Linked DNA regions of Homo sapiens: region 2 is linked to region 1. Evidence: fine-mapped expression QTL. A gene starts in region 1. The other region holds a variant in brackets. All regions are shown on one strand. Distances are from middle to middle. Region 1 holds the start of KRABD3 (KRAB domain containing 3). Region 2 has its middle 21 kb from the start of ZNF467.

Region 1 (9,802 bases):
CGCCGCATACCCCCACCGAATTGTACCTAGAACCCGGTCCCGGGACATAGAATAGCAGCAGCGTGAACGATCCCCGTGTTCATTTCTCAGGTGGAAAGACTAAGGCTGCCGGGTCCAGGGACTCCGGCCTCCCTTCCACCGCCCACCAGGCTCCTGCCACACGTGCTGCTCCCTCCCGTCCTTACCCACAGAGACCAGCGTCTCGTAGTTCTCCCGCATCACGTCTCGGTAGAACTCCCTCTGCCCCTCCTCCAGGAGCCGCCACTCCTCCTCCGAGAACCGCACGGCCAAGTCCTTGAAGGTGATGGACACCTGCAGGCACAGTCTCCGGGGGGGTTGGTTGTTCCATCCCAGAGGGGACAGCCTAGCTGTCCCTGCACTTGGTAACCCCACCTAGGCCTCCAGGCGCACACTCCAGGATAATAGCCAGGGTCTGACATGCAGGAATCCCCTCAAGAGACAGTGCTGGGGGTGAGCTGTGTCTCTGCAGAGACACGCTGAAGTCCTAACCCTCACGCCTGTAAGTAGGACCTTATTTAGAAACAGAGTCCCTGCAGATGGAATTACTTAAGATGAGGTCATACTCCTAAGTAGGGGGGACCCTTAGTCCAGTATGACTCATTCCTTATCAGAAGAGACACAGAGACAGACACAAAAGAAGAAAGCTGTGTGAAGACAGGCAGAGACTACAGTCATGCAGCCACAAGCCAAGGAATGCCCAGGGCCACCAGAAGCCACAAGAGGCAAGAAGGATCCTGGCCCAGAGCCTTCAGAGGGAGTGTGGCCTGCCCACACTGTGACGTAGGGCTTCGGGTCTGCAGGGCTGTGAGAGAAGACATTCTTGCTGTCCACCTAGTTTGTGTGCTGGGTTTAGAGAAGTGCTCAGAAGAAACCTGGGGTTGCCCTTGGAAGCTTTGGGTCACCAGGCTCCTTTACACCCTGTACTCCTATCTCCTATTCTCTGTACTCATCTCCTCCTACCCTGTGGCTTTTTAAAATAACACGAGCATTTTTGTCTATGTTTCTTTACAAAATAATCCTTCGGCTGGGTGTGGTGGCTCACGCCTGTAATCCCAGCACTTCGGGGGGCCAAGGCAGACAGATCACCTGAGATCAGGAGTTCGAGACCAGGCTGGCCAATATGGTGAAACCTTGTCTCTACTAAAAATGCAAAAATTAGGTGTGGTGGTGGGCGCCTGTAATCTCAGCTACTCAGGAGGCTGAGGCAGGAGAATTGCTTGACCTCGGAAGGCAGAGGTTGCAGTGAGCCGAGATCACGCCATTGCACTCCAGTCTGGGCAATATGGCGAGACTCCATCTCAAAAAAAAAAAAAAAAAAAAAAAGTCCTTCAGTGGACTTTAAAGTGGCCATCAGACACTAGAAAATGACCAGCATCAATAGGCTTGAATTTAAAATTATGGCAAAAATTAACTGTGCAAATTAAGCAAACAGAAGGTAAATTATGGGAAGGGTCCTTCCTGTTGAGAAATGAATGTTAAACTGTTTATTTGTGAGAACAAATTATTAAAGAAAATGAACACGCCCCTAATAAAGCAAAGACAATTCACCGCTTGTTTCATCTGCTCAGGGCAGTTATTTTAATTAATTAATTAAAAAAGACAGGACCTTACTATGTTGCCCAGGCCAGTCTTGAACTCCTGGGCTCAAGTGGTTCTCCCACATTGGTCTCCCAAAGTGCTAGGATTACAGGCGTGAGCCCCTGCACCCACCCAAGTCAGTGATTCTAAAAACTGTCCCAGGCTGGGTGTGATGGTTCACGCCTGTAATCCCAGCACTTTGGGAGGCCCAGGTGGGTGGATCACCTGAGGTCAGGAGTTCAAGACCAGCCTGGCCAACATGGTGAAACCCCATCTCTAATAAAATACAAAAATTAGCCAGGCATGGTGGTGGGTGTCTGTAATCACAGCTACTTGGGAGGCTGAGGCAGGAGAACCTGGAAGGCAGAATTTGCAGTGTGCCAAGGTCACAACATTGTACTCCAGCCCCTGTTTCAAGAAAAACAAAAAACTGTCCCTGCCACTAACCGGCAGCCTTGTTGTCCACTTACTGCCGGGCTCTCTGCCTGTTCTCCCTGAACAGCTGATAACTTGTCCCATGCAGTCACACTTACCAGTGCTCCCCTCTGGCCAGGCTGCATCTACACCCCTGGCAAGGGGCAGCCCCTCCCGTGACTGCCTGCCTGAGGCCCGGAGGCCCAGAGGCTGATGGGCAGTGAGATGCTGCAGCCTTTGCCTCCTGCCTCGATGTGCAGACTCTCCCTGAGCAAACCTCTGTGGCTCTGGCCCAGGTATGGTCACTCCCTCTCAGGAACAGTCTCAGACACCCTCCAAAACTTCTCTCAAAGAGTTATTTACATTTCTTCCTAGCATCTTGGAACAGAGAAAATGTAGCCAACATCAGGGTCTATGCAGAAGAGCGTGCAGAGCAGCCCTAGACCGCTGTCCTTAGGAAGGCCTGCTTGCCAGGAGGGCTCAGGCTGGCTTCCAGGTATTTAGGTGTCAGGAGGCTTCCCACCATTCCCTAAATGATGGGAGTGGCTCAAGGTGCCTAGGCTGAGCAAATGACGTGGTGTGTGCCACACCCCTGCTTTCCTTCTGGGAGTCTGGAATTTTGGTTCATGGCAGGCAGAGGGTTCCCACATGACATTCTGATGGCTCAACACAGAGCTGGCAAGGCAGGTCTGAGCTCTAGGTAAGAACATGATACCAGCTATGTTGGTTGCACTGGTACCACTGCTGACCTGATGTGGCCATTAAGAGGTTCCGGACCCAGAGACCGGGGCAGAGCACGGTGACTGGGGCCTAGCCTCAGGAGCCAGGCTGCCAGAATTCCAATCCCTGCCTTGTTTCATACTAGTTATGAGACCTCAGCCAAACCTAACCTATTTGGGCCTCAGTGAACTCATCTGTAATACTGGGATCATAACAACCTACCTCATAGAGGTATTGTGAAGACAAAACAAATACAGGAATAGTGCCTAGAACAAATGCGGGGACTATGAATATTAAGTGCTATGATTAGTAATACTGCAGCCAGACCTGTCTGCCTAATGCCCGCTTGCAGGTCTGAGCCTGCCAGCTGAGCTCTTCCACATACTGCTCCTGACCACCGGTGTCTCTCTCGCTCCAGACTAAATATATCCCAGCTCTTCCAGGAATCTGTAAGAGATGCTTTCCAGGCCTCTCACCATCTCAGCCTCAAGACAAACTGTTTTGTGATAAAATTCTTAGAAAATGAGAATGGGAACTGACTGTGGCCAGGGTAGGCGCTTCTGCCAGTGGCCTCCCTCTCCCCAGAAAAAGCAAAGAGTGAGGGTTTTGTGTGTGAGGGAGTGAGCAAGTGTGAGTGTGCAAACACCTGGGCTACAAAACTCATCTTCGGGAGGAGGAAGGCCACCACTGGCTGGCTCTGCCCACACACCACCGGCCTTCCTCCTCGGGCCCCACTTCACCTCCTTCCCCCAACCAATGGAGAAAAGCTTTCTGGGCTGACCCAGGACTCTTGTAACTGGGCAGCCTCCTAGCTCATAGCTGCACACTGGTCCTCCTAACATCACCCTTCCACCGTGTCACTAGCCCAGCACAAAAACTGCAGCTTCAGTGCCTGCTGGACCTGCCCCTCTCTCACAGTCCTTCCCAACCTAGACCTGCTCTCCCAGTGGGCCTCAGGCTCGGGCTCCCTGATCAGACCCTGCCACAGGACCTCTCAACCTGGAGGCTGTGCTCACATTGCCCTGGGCTTCTGGGAACCCTCCCTGCTCCTCTCCACCTTACAGTGACCTACCACTCCCCAAGGTCACTCCTGGCCACCTTCTCCATGAAGCTACGTAGTGTGAGGATATTCCCCTCATCAGATCTGAAAGGTCAATGGCCCAAACTCCTCACTTTACAGAACAGGAAACTGTGGTATGAGGAGGCCTTAGGATGGGGCCATGGGCATGTCTGAACCAGGGTGTCCCTAGGCTACTTAACTGTGCAGCCAGACCTGAAAAGGACACTTGACTGTCCCTGCCCAACAACATCCAATTTGCCTAGCCTCTCCCTTCTCCCCAAATGCTTGGGGGCACTAATGACGCCAAGGGCCTGGCACAGTGTTTGCTCTGCCTAGTCACACGCTGCCCCCCATCCATGGCTGCCTCGGACTGGCCAAAGCTCAGGAGCCACCACGGTTGCAGAACTGGCTCCAGGTGCCCATCCAGAAGAACGTGGAGCAGTTGCTGGTATCAGCACCAGATACCTGATACCTCACTGATATCAGCACCAGAGTTTCCCAGCATCGTCACAGCCCACACACAACCTAGCCCAAACGGTGCCCAGGCTGTCACGGCCTGGGGCTCTCCCTCCAGTTCTCAGATCTAAACGCCTTACCTGCAGGCTTCCCAAGACAAAACTTGGGGTTTGTTCTATCTTTGTTTCTCCCCATTTCCACGTCCCCAGCCCCCGGGATCCAGGATTCCACCAAGAACAGAAGTATGAGATTTACTCACTGCCTCCGAGGCCTTCATGCCCACTCTACCAGGATAACTTGTAACGAAACAAGCCACGCCAAGGGGGTTTCCCCAGGTGGAGACTGGGCCGTGGGTACCGGCGGCGGAGAGCTGGAGAGAGGTTGTCCGAGGACCTGAACTTCCCGGCACGAACCCCTGAGCATCAGGCCTGCCCAGCCTCACCCAGCCGATCCCGAAGTTGCGGGGGGGTCCCAGCTCTTTCTCGCCCTACCGCCTTCGGGGCCGCACTGCGCCGAGGGGTCCGCGCGTCCGCCTGCCTTACCTGGCGCGCCATCCCCGGGCTCAGCCTCCCCGCCACTCCTCGGTTTCCGGCGCGGGCCCTGGCGCGGGCGCACGCGACCCTCGTCGGCGGCGGCCCAGGTCCGCGCAGGAGAAGGCGGGGCCGGGGGCCTGGGCCGAGGGGGAGGGGCGGGGGTGGGCGCGCCCGGGCCCGCCCCCGGCCTCGTTGAGCCCGCCCCGAGCGCCTCGCATCCCTTGGTGGGTGGTGCCGTTTCCGCCCGGAGCCCCCGGCTTCGGCGGCCCGGCCGGCCGGCGCAGACGCGGACTACACTTCCCAGAAGGCGCCGCGGCGCCGGCTCGGAAGCGGGGGGCGGAGACAGGGCGGGGCGGACCTGGCTCGGGCCTCGTCCCCGCCCCCTCCCCTCGTCCCCGCCCCCAGCTGCGGGTAGAGGTTGCGCGCCGAGACCAGCCGGGGCGGCTGTGGGCGTGCAAGCCCGCGGGTACGCGCCGCTTATCACTCATTCATTCCCGCAGCCACCACTCAGCGCGTCCCATGTGCCAGGGGCTGATGGTGGGGATGAAGAGGGACCCATCTTTCCCAGAGGCCGCGGTCGGGGAAACCCGACCTGGAGTGAAAGGGGTCGAGGGTCCGGCCGGGCGTGGGTGGGACAGAGCAGCTGCCAGGCCCCCGTACATCCTCACGTCTTTCGCCCGCGCCCCCGCTCGCCGCAGCCATGACCTACCTTCGTGTCACATTTTGCGTGCCTGTTTGCTGGGGTGGTAACCCCAGTTGTTCCTGGCACATAGTAGGCCTCAAATAAACGTGTGATGCGGGAAGGAAGCGCGGCCCACTCTCCTCTGCCTCCCCCTGCGCTTCACGAGTTCGAAGGCCTGGTCTGGGCGGGCGCTGCGAGAGCGCTCCGGGGGTGCGGGCGAGGCGCAGCGAGCCTGGTTTTCCTGTCTGGAGAAGGACCCCGTCATTTTTATAGAAGGCTGCTGGAAGGGGGCCTGCGGGGCTAAGCCTGCTGTGCCAGACAGAAGCTTGGAGGGGAAGGGGAGGCTGTGGTCCCACGCAGAGGAGACTCTGCTCTGAGTTTGGAAGCCCCGTCCAGACCTTGCGGCCCAGACAGCGCTCTGCCTGGGCAATATCGGAGGGAAGGAAAGGGAATTCCTCGCCCAGTCGCCCGGGGCTGGCCCTTGCAGCCGCGCCGGCCATGATCACGGACTCGGGTACGATGCCGACAACCCCTCGTCCCGGCCTCCGAGGAAAGGCGCACGCCCACTCGGGCAAAGCCCCCTCGGTCATACCCGAGACACCTTAGACACAGGACCGGCGTGTGCGCAGCCTGCTGAACAAGGATTTGAAGATATCACAAGGCCCCACCTCGCGGAAAGGGAAAACTTAAAAGTCCAACTTTTCAAGAGCCCTACAGGCCACAGCCCTCAGGGTAAGTCGCCTCCTGGGCTTTAGGCCGGGTCCCACCTCCGTGCCGAGGTGAGGCGGGCTCCTTACAGTAATGTGTTCCTGCTCCCAGCTCCTCTCCACCGCCCACCCTCCGGCCCGGGATCCCTAAACGTTAAAACCCCCTAAATCAGGGGTCCCCAACCTTTTGGGCCAGAGCCCGGTTTTGTGGAAGGGAATTTTTGCATGGACTGGGAGGGGGGTTGTTTTGGGATGAAACTGTTCCAACTCAGATCACCAGGCATTAGATTCTCCTAAGGAGCCCGCAACCTGGATCCCGCATTCACAACAGGGTTCTGGCTCCTATGAGAATCCAGCACCTGCAGATCTGACAGGAGGCAGAGCTCAGGGGTAATGCGAGCAAGGGGGAGTGGCTGTAACTACAGATAAAGCTTTCCCTGGCTTGCCCGCAGCTCACCTCCTGCTGCACTGCCCAGCTCCTAACAGGCCAGGACTGGTACTGGTCCATAGCCCAGGGACTGGGGACCCCTGCCTTAAACTTAAACACCTGTAGAAAGAAATCTCTATCCAAGTAAGATGCACCTTTGTTTTAAGCTGTGCAGATTCTTGGCACCTCTTTGACTCAAACGTCCACTTCCTGGCTAGGCTTCCTGCCCCATTTGTGGACCATCAGTCGCTAAAAGCAGTTCACCAACATGAAATTTGCTGCATGGCCAATTATTTAAATTATGGAGACACTTCCTGGCACCCCTATCCCCCAAATTTTAGTTGCGCCTTTGACCCTGTAGACCTGTATTTACCTCAGCCCGTGTGTGTGCGTTAAAAAATAGTTGTGAAGACCTGTCCTGAACCAGGTTTATTGGATGGCTCTGGACACAGACAAAGGCAGGAGTGGAGCTGAAACACATCTTTAAAAATTCCTTGGCTGGGGCCAGGCACGGTGGCTCACACCTGTAATCCCAGCACTTTGGGAGGCCAAGGCTGGTGAATTGCTTGGGCCTGGGAGTTCCAAACCAGCCTAGGCAACATGATGAAACCCCATCTCTACAAAAAATGCAAAAATTAGCCAGGTGCAGTGGTGTACCCCTGTAGTCCCAGCTGCTTGGAAGGCTGAGGTGGGAGAATCTCTTGAGCCCAGGAGGCAGAGGGGGGTTGCAGTGAGCCAAGATCACACCACAGCACTCCAGCCTGGGTGACAGAGCAAGACCCTGTCTCAAAAAAAAAAAAAAAAAATTTCAATAATTCAGATTGGTTGTTTAGCAAGTTGATATTCAGTGGTTTAGCTTTTACCATATTTGGCTTTTGGCTATCTGGTCATTCTGTGAATTGACTTTTGGTGAACTAGTCGGCACTTTTCCCAAATGAATCTAAAGGCAAATTGTGCTGGCCAGTCCTCCATGTGAAAATGGCTGCAACTTTAAAATATTTTCTGATTTTCATTATTATTTCTTTTTCCATCCATGAGATTATTTAAAAGTACTTTTTAATTTCCAAATACGAATCTTTTTATGAGTTATTTTGTTTTTGAGTTTTGCCTTATAGTCAGAGAATGTAGTAAGTGATGTTGATTTTTTAGAATTTTCTGAGACTGCTTTGTGGCCAAGTGTGCAATAGATGTTTGAAAATGTTCCATGTTTGCCTAAAAGAGTACATATATTCTAATATTGGTGTAGGATCTAGTTAGAGCTGTAAAATCAAGCTTATCAATCATGTGGTTTATGCCTTCTATAGTTTATCATCTTTTTGCATTTGGAACTATCAGTTACTAAAGAGGTGTTAAAATCTCATATCAAGTTTGTGCATTTGTCAATTTCTCCCTGAATTTGTGAGAATTTTCGCTTCATGTGTTTGGAGGCTGTGTGCTTACAAATTTAGAATTGTAGTATTTTCCTGGAGAATTGTTCATTCTATTATTAGAAAGTAACACTATCCCTAATAATAGTCTTTGTCTATAATCCATTTTGTTTGATATTGCTGCAGCTACACTAACTTTATTTTGGCAAGTATTTCTTTGATATATCTTTTCCTGTCCTTTTACTTTCAAACTTTGTGTATATTTATGTTTCAGATGTGTGTCATATAAGAGCATGTAGCTAGATTTTGTTGTTGCTGCTGAATCCAGTCTGACAATCTCTATCATAATCATGAATCTACTGATTTGAAAGTTATGCTTTCCTTTTTTATTCATTTGGGGGTTACTCTGTAATTTTACACACATATTTGGTTTAATAGAATCTAATATTACTACTTCTGATCTTCTCGCAAATGATAGAAAGCTTTTTGAATATGAGTTTAATCACACTCTTCCCCTTCTGTCTTGTGTGTAATTATTGTTCTTTTTAGTTACATCTTGTTTTTAAGACTCTCTCCTGATATTTGAAGTCATTGTTTTTGTTTTATACAATCTATGCTGTTTAGATTTACCAATGTGCTTACCACTATCTTTGTTCACTCTTTTTTCTTGCCTCTTTCTTCTTCCTTCTGGGTTCAATGTTCTTCCTGAAGCAGAACTTTTAAAATTTATTTCAGCAAGGATATTTTAGAAGTGGATACTTTCAGTTATATAAAATGTCTTACATTTTTCTCACTCCTGAATGATACTTTAGCCAGGGAGAGAACTGTTTCACACTTCTAATATTTTATTCCATTGTCTCCTGACTTTCATTGTTGCTATTGAAAAGTCTGCTGTCAGTCTAATTATTCCTTTGCATATGATTTAACTTCTCTGGCTTCATTTAAAATCATCTGTTTGGCCGGGCATGGTGGCTCACACCTGTAATCCCAGCATTTTGGGAGGCTGAAGCGGGAGGATCACCTGAGGTCAGGAGTTTGAGACCAGCCTGACCAACCTGGAGAAACCCCGACTCTACTAAAAATACAAAAAAAATTAGCCAGGCATGGTGGTGCATGCTTGTAATACCAGCTACTCGGAGGCTAAGGCAGGAGAATCACTTGAATCCAGGAGGCAGAGGTTGCAGTGAGCAGAGATCGTACCATTGCACTCTAGCCTGGGCAACAAGAGCAAAACTCCATCTAAAAAAAAAAAAAAATCTCTTTATCTGTGGTATCATGAAGTTTCACTGCAATGTGGCTAGGTATGGATCTTTTATTTATCTTTCTTGGAACTCGTGAGTCCTAAATCTGAGGTGTCACATCTTTGTACAAGTCTGGAAAATTCTCAGCTATTATATCTTTTAATATTGCCTCTTCCCAAGCTGGGCATGGTGGCTCATACCTGGAATCCCAGCACTTTGGGAGGCCGAGGCAAGTGGATCACGAGGTGAGGAGTTCGAGACCAGCCTGGCCAACATGGTGAAACCCCGTCTCTACTAAAAATACAAAATTTTAAAAATTAGCTGGGTGTGGTGGTGGGTGCCTGTAGTCCCAGCTACTCAGGAGGCTGAGGCAGGAGAATGGCATGAACCCAGGAGGCGGAGCTTGCAGTGAGCTGAGATCGTGTCACTGCACGACAGCCTGGGCAACAGAGACTCCGTCTAAAAAAAAAAAAAATTTAGGCCAGGTGTGGTGTCTCCCGCCTGTAATCCCAGCACTTTGGGAGGCCACAGTGGGCAGATCATCTGAGGTCAGGAGTTTGAGACCAGCCTGGCTAATATGGTGAAACCCTGCTTCT
Region 2 (9,802 bases), 38 kb before region 1:
CAACCTGGTGGTCTGACTCTAGAGCTTGTGCTTTTTAAAAAATTACATTATTTTAAATTGTGGCAAAATACACAGAACATAAAATGTAACATCTTTACCATTTTTAAGTTTGCAGTTTAGTGGCATAAAGAACATTCACGTTATGTGACCATCACCACCATCCATCTCCAGAACTCTTTTCAACTTGTGTCATGGTTAATTTTCTGTGTCAACTTGGCTAGACCATGGTGCCCAGATATGTGACCAAACATTATCTTTATATGTTTATATGAGGGTTTATGGATGATATTAACATTTAAATTGGTGGACTTGGAGTAAACAGATTATCCTCCATAATGTGGGTAGGCCTTACCCAATCAGTTGAACAGAACAGAAGACTGACCTCCCCCAAGGAAGAGGGAATTCAGCCAGCAGAAGCATCGGCTCTTCCCTAGGTCTCCAGCCAGCCAAAGCCACCCTATAGATTTTGGACTTGCCAGCCCCTGTAATCACATGAGCCCATTCCTTAAAACAAATCTCTTTCTACATGTATATACACACACCCCAAGGTTGTCTTTCTCTAGAGAATCCTGACTAATACACCTTGCAAAGCTGAAACTCTGTGCCTATTAAACCCTATTCTCCCCTCTCCAAATCCCTGGCAACCATCATTCTACTTTCTATCTCTATGAATCTGACTACTCTAGGGACCTCCTATAAGTGGAATAACATAGTGTTTGTCTTTTGTGACTGGCTTATTTCACTTAGCATGATGTTCTCAAGGTTCATCCATGCTGTAGCAGGTCTTAGAATTTCCTTCCTTCTTAAGGCTGAATATTCCATTGCATGTCTACACTACATTGTTTATCCAATCATCCACCAATGAACACTTGGTTGCCTCCACCTTATGGTATTGTGAATCATGCTGCTGTGAACAGGAGTGTACATATGTCTGTTTGAGTGCCTGTTTTCAGCTCTTTTGGGTATATACCCAGATATGGAATTGCTGGATCATATGGTCATTCTATTTTTAATTTCTTGAGGAGCTGACATACTGTCTTCCACAGCATCTGCACCATTTCACATTCTCACCAGCCATGCATGAGGCTTCCAATGACGCCACATCCTTGCCAACAATTGTTATTTTCTGGTTTTTGATACTGGCCATCCTCATGGCTTTGAGGCGACATCTCAGAGTGATTTTGGTTTGCATTTTCCTAGGACCTGTACTTTTAAACACCAAGCTCCACTGTCCCCTTGCAGAGAGGGGTCTTCAGGACACACATTCAAGGTCTTCAGGGCACTCACAGACTCGCGGTTGGACCTAGTGGGTTGGTAAGAGAAGTATGTGCAAAGGATCATGGAACAAGGAGCAAGGAGCAGGGACTCACACCTGGAGATCAGGAGGGCATCTCTGAGGAGGTGAATTAACTTGCCAAGACTGTAAGCAACTGGGGACCAGGCTTCCAGCCAGCCGGGAAACCTGTTACACACACACGTGGCATTAGCATGCATCTGTCTCCTGGGAGAGGACAGTGCTGGGTGGCAGAGACCTGGGAAGAAGCATGAAGCCATGGAAGTTGGGCCTGGCTATCTGTTGCAAAATGTTCCCTTTCTAGACGCGATCATGAATCATGGAGCTACAGCTATGGGAATCTTTGTTGAGGCGTGGATGTCAGCTGTGATTTAAAATAGGTAGGAATCGGCAGGCAGAATGAAGCTTCATTTTCATAGAAAACATATATTATGGCATCCTGAATCGAGGCACTGAGAAAGGGTGGCTGATGTCCAAGCAGGTGATGTACCAAGGAGACCAGGCAGTGCAGACAGGTACAGCTCTGAGAGAACACCAGGAAGGAAGGGGGAAAGGAAGGTAGCAAAGTCTCAGGATGTGTTTATGGGGCAGGCAGATAGCAACCTGGGAAGAGGGTCGAGGCCTCACAGACTCCCAAGACACTGGCCAGCCTGGGCCCAACTCCAAGCCACAGTCTCTGTGAATTGCCTGAAAATTGTCCTGCTGACATTGCTGCCCCCTGCACACAGGCAAGGGGGGAGCTGTGCCATGTGGCACTGCGTTCACCGAAGCTGCTGTGTTCGCTTCCTGAGGCCTCCTTTACAAAGTGCTACACACTGCATAGCTTCAAAACAGCAGAAATCTATTCCTTCACGGTCTGGAGGCTATGAGTGTGAAATCAGGTGTTACACTCCCTCTGAAGGCTCAAGGGAAGACTCTGTTCCAGGCCTTTCTCCTGGCCATTTCTTGACTTATAGACACAGCACTTCAATCTCTACCTCCATCCTCCCATCACCTTCTTCCTGGGTCTCCTCCACTCTGGGCATGTCTGTGTCCCTCCTCTTCCTATAAGGACAACAGTCATATTGGAGAACGGCCCACCCTAATGACCTCATCCTGATTTTATCCGCAAAGATCCTATTTTCAAGAGGCTATATTCATAGGTTGGGGCCAGGGCTAGGACTTCAACACAACTTTTTGGACTTCTTGGGGGGCGCAATTCAATTCATAACAGAGACCTTGAGTAAAATACTGTGTCAAAGTTGGGGGAGCTGAGGCTGAAATGAGGGCTCCTGGTATTGGGAGGGAATGGGGCAGTGCAGCTCTAATCAGAGCCCATGAGAGTGGACCTGTGGGTCCAGGCAGCTCTTACCCCAGGAGCTCTTGGATCCACCCTGTGCTATGTTTTGGAGATGTGTCATATCATTCAAAAAAGCCAAAAGAGGCTGGGCACTGTGGCTGACACCTGTAATCCCAGCACTTTGGGAGGCCGAGGTGGGAGAATCACTTGAGGCCAAGAGTTCAAGACCAGCCTGGGCAACATAGGGAGACTCCATTTCTAAAAAAAAAAAAAAATTTAATTACCCAGGCATGGTAGCAGGCCTGTAGTCCTAGTGACTCAAGAGGCTGAGGTAGGAGGATGCCTTGAGCCCAGGAGTTTGAGGTTACAGTAAACCAAGATTGTATCACTGCACTCCAGCCCGGGTGACAGAGCAAGAACTTGTCTGAAAAAAAAAAAAAAAAAGATAAAACATAAACAGTTTTGCTTTGTGTTACTTTATTCTTCGTGTGATTTTTAAATTTAAATTTTTCCTAGTCCTATAACAGTAAAATAGCTTTGATAGGACAGTAAACAGTTGACTTTTAGGAGACACTAAGAGCAACTGGGAACTCAGCCTTTTTCCATCAAACATGACTGTTTTGTTTGGTGTTTCTGTAAACTGTGTTTATGTGTCGGGGGTGGTGGTGTGCACACCAGGATTTACTTGTAGAGAGACATAGATGAAGGAAGGAGACAGCCTCCCGAGGAAGATGTTGCCTATGCTGGGGAGAGGGCTTGAAGGGGAGCCGGGGTGGGGGTTGGCGAGGTGGGTTGAGGGTGGGAGGGCTTCTGCTAGTATGTTCAGGGAGACAGATGGGCCGACTGAAGGCAGACAGGTTGGTGAGTGCGTTCACGGGACATGCTGGTTTCCAGTAGTGAAAGATTCTTTCTGCTCCTGGGACTCAAGAACCTGCTCGTAGTTGTTAACTCCAGGGTCCTGGGGAGGCCACCCATGCCCCACAGGGAAGAAAACTTCTTCACTCACTTACTGATCCTTGAAATGTCTTTTAACCAGAGACAAGTCTTGTATTTCACAGTCAGAGGGAGTATGCAAGACCCCCAGAAGAGGGCGCACGGCCACAATTCCACGCTGGTGGAAGGACTGGAATCCTGTCCTTCCCTGGGAACCCTCACCTGGGGAAGGATGAGTGAGTGTCACACTGAGGCCTCCCACAGTGGAGAAGCAGCAACGGAGAAGGAGGCCCCAGGAACCCTAAAGACAGAGACTTTAAGGTCGGGAGGGTTTCACAGAGGCTTTAGGAAACAGATTTATCCAACTGCCACAAAGGACTGAGCCTTCAGGCGTGGGATTAGGTCAGCCTTGGGGCAGGGGACATTC[T/C]TGGTCAATAGCAGGACTTTGATTTACGTAACGGGCTTATGCAATGTCATTACATAACATCATTAGGGGCATCGCAAATCGGATTCTATTTCAGGCTCTACAGGAGCCAGACCCAGGGCTCCCCTCCGGCCCAGCAAGACAGGATTCCCGTGGGCCCAGTGTCCCTGTCCTCGCTGGGATTTTCTCTCTTGAGATTTCACTGTGGGGCTTCCAGGAGAACTCCTAAGGCCTCAGGATCCTCTTTCTCCAGAATGATGGAGCTCGCGTCATAGCACGCTCATCCTTTGCAGATGCCTGCCCTGCTGCCCCTGCTGCCCCTGACCCTCCCAGTACTGTCCCCCCAAGCCCAGGCCAGTGGGCAACCTTCTCCTATCAGGTCCCCCTCTGACTTCTCCCCAACTCCTGCTTCCCCATCTATCCTCCAACTGTCAGGCTGATCTTCCTTATAACTTATTACGCCCCAGCTTAGAAACTTCTGCTCATCTGAATATCCAGAGGCCTTAGCGGTTGACACATTGTGCCACATTATTCTGTGTGTCCCTCTGGGGGTGGCAAGCTTCCCTGGCACAGAGCAGAGTGCCCACCTAGCCAGTGTGCAATACATGTCTGTTCTAACTCAAGGCTCTCTACAGTTGGCCCCAACAAACTTTTGAAACTTATTTTCCAAACCTCCTGGGTACACACCCTCCCTTACACCAAGCGGTCTTGTTCCTGTCTCCGGGCCGTGTGGTCCTTCCTGCCTCCTGCCCCGGCCTCCCTGGGCTTCCCCATCACAAAGTGCCTACTGCCCTGACTTCCCTTTTAAATCCTACCTATTTTTCGAGCACAGATGGGGGCCACCTCCTGGGGGTGTCCTTCCCCAATGATCCCAGCACACAACAATCTCCTCCTTTAAGCTGTCATGGTTCCTCTGCTTCCCACCTTACCAGATGTCGCCTGCAGTTGTTGGGTGTGTCCGCGTGTGCCTAAAATGTGTGAGTGCCTCCTGTGACTGAGGCTCCTACTTAATTCCCCTAAGCCCCCTTTGGTACGGGGTTGCTGTCCTCACTTCTCAGGTAAGGAAACCGGGGTTTAGAAAGGTTACACCCTTGTAGGAGCCTCATCTCTCCAGGCCCACTGGGAACATCTCGAGGGCGGAAGTCGTGTTTTTTTGTCTTGGTATTTCCAGGACCTGGCACATTTGAACACTCACAACACGTATGTTGAATTGTACAGGTGGAAGAGGAGCCTTTACAAGGCCTACCCATCTCAAAATCCCTCCCCTACCGGATAATCTGAGTGCCTAAAATCCACCCCTGCAGAGTTATAGCTGTGAACTAAGACAGGGTGACAGCAAACACAAATCCCAAAGTTAATAAATTCAGCGATCTATTTTTTCATGTGGCTGCTGAGATGGTTAAAGCTAAACTTACTGCTCAAATGCAATTATGTGAGTTAGATATCTGGTATGTTTCACATACTCTGCATGTCCCATTTAAAGCCTCACTGTAATATACCACCTTCGTTGGCCGTTACTGCAAAGTATATGTATTAGATGAGAAGAGAGCTACCTGAACTAAGAAGAGAGCTGAGAACCACACTCAGGAAAGCAGACAGAAAGGGGAAAGCAGGAATGTCAGTGTTGGAGAGGCCTGAGAATTTTCTAGGCTGTCGGTTCCTAACCTTTAGCAAACCACCAAGCATTTAGTTGTTTAAAGCTCCCTTCAGAGTAATGTGCATAGAAACAATGATTTGCACGTAATTTTAGAGGGTATGTGGACACCCTCTTTAAGCCCCTCTGTGGGCCCACATGGTCCGCAGAGCTGGTTTAAGAACCTCTGCTCTCATCCTGCATGACAGAACGGAGGCCTGGAGGAGAGAGGTTCTGCTGGGGCCTGAAGGGTGGGAGGGAGGGAAAGAGGAAATCCATGATTTTGCAGGGCAGGCCCTGCTGGCTAGTTTCCGGTTCTCCTTGTCATCTTGTGCCTGGGCTGCCCCTGGCACAGGAAGAGCCTGTGTGGCCAGAGGAACCTGCTTCCCCTCCACCCAGCTCTGCATGCCCCTCCCTGCTCAGCGGGCTGGGGAGGGTGGAGGTCCCAGGGTCCCACAACTAAGGTGGGCTCACATTCTGGGACCAGATCAGGACTCACAATTACCCCACAGGAGACTTCCACCCATCCCTCTCCCCAACCCAGATGGAAGCACACTTGCCTAGCTGGGCTGGAGGCAGATGACACACCTAGGGGGCCTGCCGGGGGCCTGGGTTGGGAACAGAAGCCCCAGCTCTGCACTCTGAGAGCTGTCCCTGAGTTATCCCCCACCCCTACCCCTGTGCAAAGGATGCTAATGAGAAGCTTTTCATTTCGCAGCTGCAGCAGCACAGCGTGCACACACTTGTCTCATTTTGCTGTTTCAGGAAAGAAAGCAGAGCTTGCTCACCCCTCGCCCCCACTTCTATTCCCAGTGAAGGTCACGGCTTCTCCTCAGCCCTGATTGGCAGCAGCCTTCTGAGGGCCAATGCTGGTGACCAGCAGTCAGGCTTCAGAGAGGGGCCTTCTGAGCTTTCCACAGCTCTGTGAGGAGATGTCCGAAGGGAAACATTGCAGAGTGGGACAAGGGGAGAGTCCAGAGATAAGAATTATCTATGTTGTTTTGTTTTTTTTTTTTTTGAGACAGAGTCTCACTCTGTCGCCCAAGCTGGAGCACAGTGGCACGATCTTGGCTCACTGCAGCCTCTGCCTCTTGGATTCAAGTGATTCTCCTGCCTCAGCCTCCTGGGTAGCTGGGATTACAGGCACCTGCCACCACGCTTGGCTAATTTTTTTTTTCTGTATTTTTAGTAGAGACAGGATTTTACCATGTTGGTCAGGCTGGTCTCAACCTCTTGACCTCAAGTGATCTGTCTGCCTTGGCCTCCCAAAGTGCTCAGATTACAGGCCTGAGCCACTGTGCCCAGCTGAGAATTATCTATTTTAAACCAAGTAGGTATTTAGGCACTTGAGAATACCCAGGGGAAAAATCTCACATCGCTGCCCGGATCTGCCTTTTGCAAATATTGCTTGTAAATTAAATGAGCTGGACTTGGGAAGTGGCAAGAAACAACTTTATTTTCTTCTTTCATCGTCGCATTCAAACCCATTCTGTTGTATCTGCCTTCTTCGCTATATCACTTTTTTATTGTGTGTAACAAATCACTCCGAAATTGAGCCACTTAAAACAACCTTTTATTTGCTTACAGTTCTGTGGGTTAGCAGTTTGGACTGGGTTCAGCAGAGTGGTTTTTGGCTGGTCTCACCTGGGTTCCTCCTTGCAGGTACAGTTACCTTGTGGCTCTTGTGGCCCAACTGGATCTGGGTGGTCCAAAATGGTCCTATTCTCATATCCAGTGGTTGGTGCTAGCTATTGGCTAGGCCTCTCTCTCCTCCTCCAGGAGGCTGACCCGGGCCTCCGACATGCCAGCTCTGTATTCCAAGGGGGCTGGTGCAGAATCTGTAAGGGCTTCCTGAAGCCATGGCTGCAGCACTCACACAGTGTCACTTCAGCCATATTCTCTTGATCAAATCAAGTTACAAAGCCCCCCAAGGTTTAAGAGGTGGGAAAACCGTCTTTGGTGGGAACAGCAGCCAAGACCCATGGCACGGTAGTGAGTGTACAGGGGCAGGAGAAGTTCTGGTCACACCCACTCCTGGACCATATGTTTGGTGGATCCTAATATATCTTGGAAGTTAGAATAGTCTCATTTTCAGTTACTAAAAAGTCTAGCACCATCTAACCCACAACTTCTATATCTCATCCACTCTGAAGCATCTCTCCAATCTCACTGGGGACTGCTGTGATGGGAAAAGGGGCCCAGGTCTCAGTGATCTCCATCTTGTTCTTTCACTGCTCTTCCTCACACCCTGGGCCCCAGTTGGCTCCCCCAGGGGGATGACAGGAAGGAGGGGAAGGAGAATGCCTCCCATCTGACCAGTGTTGTTGTCACCCAACCCAGGTGTCCTCTGTGTGGCAGGATGCTGCTGGAATAGTGACTTTGTCTCTCATGAGGTCCTTTGCTGAGTTCTTCTAGGTCACTTGCTCCCTGTATGGGGCTCCTCATTAGGGACTCCCTAATGAGGGCAATGCACCCTCTAAATGACCACGCTTCAGCTTCTGCTCTGCTGTGTACCCCACACAACTGCTTTCTTCCAGGGTTACTCACCAGATGCGCTATTTTCTCCCCTGCTTCTCTGTGCATTCCTTCCTTCCTTCTCTGTGGACCAGCTTTCCTGCTTCTTCACTCATAGAGCACAGCAAAGGTGGCCTCTCCATAGCTTCCACATTGACCAGTTACTGGTGTAGTCATTCAAACAATTGACTAACTTTCTCAATTCCAGACTCCTGGAAGAAAGAATCTAGCTAAGCTAAGGTCAAGTTGATCCCAGGGTTGTTCAGCTATGATCGTTGTCCTATGGATGTCATGTCCTACCCGTTTATGGAAGAAATGGGAGTTCCCAGGGAAATGCTGGCCCCCAGGCTGGACAGTCAGGCCCAAGTATCTACTGCAGTGGGCACAATAGCTAGAGCCAGTCCTATGTCAGCAACTGTTATATTGACAGTTCAAGAGGACCATCAGATTTATTAACTATAAACTCATGGGCGGTCACTTAGAAAGCTGCTTCAGTAGAATGATGGTGGCAAAAGTTCGACTGCAAATGTCTGAAGGGTGAATTGGAGTGAGGAAATGGAGACAAGATGTGTAGACCATTTGGAACAGATATCTAATTGTATGTAGTCAGTGCTGCTGTTTTTCTAAAAAACAGTGAGATGGAGCTGCTTGGTGAGATGGAGCTGCTGTATTTCTGCATGGTCCTGGCCCTGGCACCAGGTGATTGGTCCAGGAGAGGGAACCCAGCCCAAGCTGGGCCAGTTGGCCTTCCCCAGGATTTTGAACTTTGGACCAGTGACCGTGTGAGTCAGACCCTCCTGGGTAACAAAAGCTGTAGGAAGTAACACATGGAAGCTTCCATAGGCCATATTTCTTATCATGTGAATGAGATTGGTTTTCAGTGAGGGAGAATGGAGCTGACCGCAGAGTAAAGTAGGAATGAGGTGCGAAGAAGGTCTTTGTATCAGATGAGCCTCAGATTCTTGGCATTCCTTAGGCCAAACCGTATCCCTTGTTTCTGTGGCAACCATGGAGATGCACCCTTGGATTTCCCTTCCAAACCCAATGCTGCTCCTCTGTGAAGAGGATGGTGAGCTGACAGCTGGCTGCTGTCAGTGTACCCAGGGTCCACCCCAGCTTGTGAGCCAAGGCCATGCTCCTCCCAGGAAGTCCCCAGCCAGTGACCATGCCGGGCTATTTCTACCCAAAGTGGAAGTCGTCTAATAAGCCGGTGAATAAGCTCTCTGGGCCAGAGCTCTCTGTCAGGGTGTCTGAGACTTTGTGCATCAGGGTCTGAGGCTCCAGCTGCACAATCCTGTTCCCCCCGCCCCCAGCTCTCTTTGCAGAGGGGTCGGATGCTCATCATGCCTGAGACTGCTTTCTCCCTTTTTCACCTCTGATGGGAGCTATACTTCCCAATAAATCTCTTATCCCTGTAATTCTGCCTGCTTCTTGAAGCAATCATTCCCATGACTTCATTGAGCCAGTATATTTCTTTTCTTTCTTTTTTTTTTTTTTTTTTTTTTTTTGAGACAAGGTCTTTCTCTGTTACCCAGGCTGGAGCGCAGTTACATGATCTTGGCTCACTGCAACCTCTGCCTCCTGGGTTCAAATGATTCTCGTGCCTCAGCCTCCCAAGTAGCTGGGACTACAGGTGCACCACCACTACAGCACCACCACACCCGGCTATTTTTTGTATTTTCAGTAGAGATGGAATTTCACCATGTTGGCCAGGCTGGTCTTGAA

Evidence for each region.
Region 2: its variant is fine-mapped to the expression of KRABD3 in monocytes (Fairfax 2014, PIP 0.95).

What each region holds. Positions count from the first base shown.
Region 1 is chr7:149,710,056-149,719,857 of GRCh38, reverse strand. KRABD3 (KRAB domain containing 3) reads right to left here and starts at 4,907. Exons shown (of 17, transcript NM_001290187.2): 1 at 4,792-4,907; 2 at 186-312. The coding sequence starts at 4,803. RefSeq lists enhancers at 3,985-4,617, 5,255-5,754 and silencers at 4,820-5,259, 6,086-6,380.
Region 2 is chr7:149,747,706-149,757,507 of GRCh38, reverse strand. No RefSeq gene overlaps it. Among named protein-coding and RNA genes, the nearest start is that of ZNF467, 21 kb to the left of the region's middle. The variant T/C (reference allele first, on the strand shown) is at 3,934.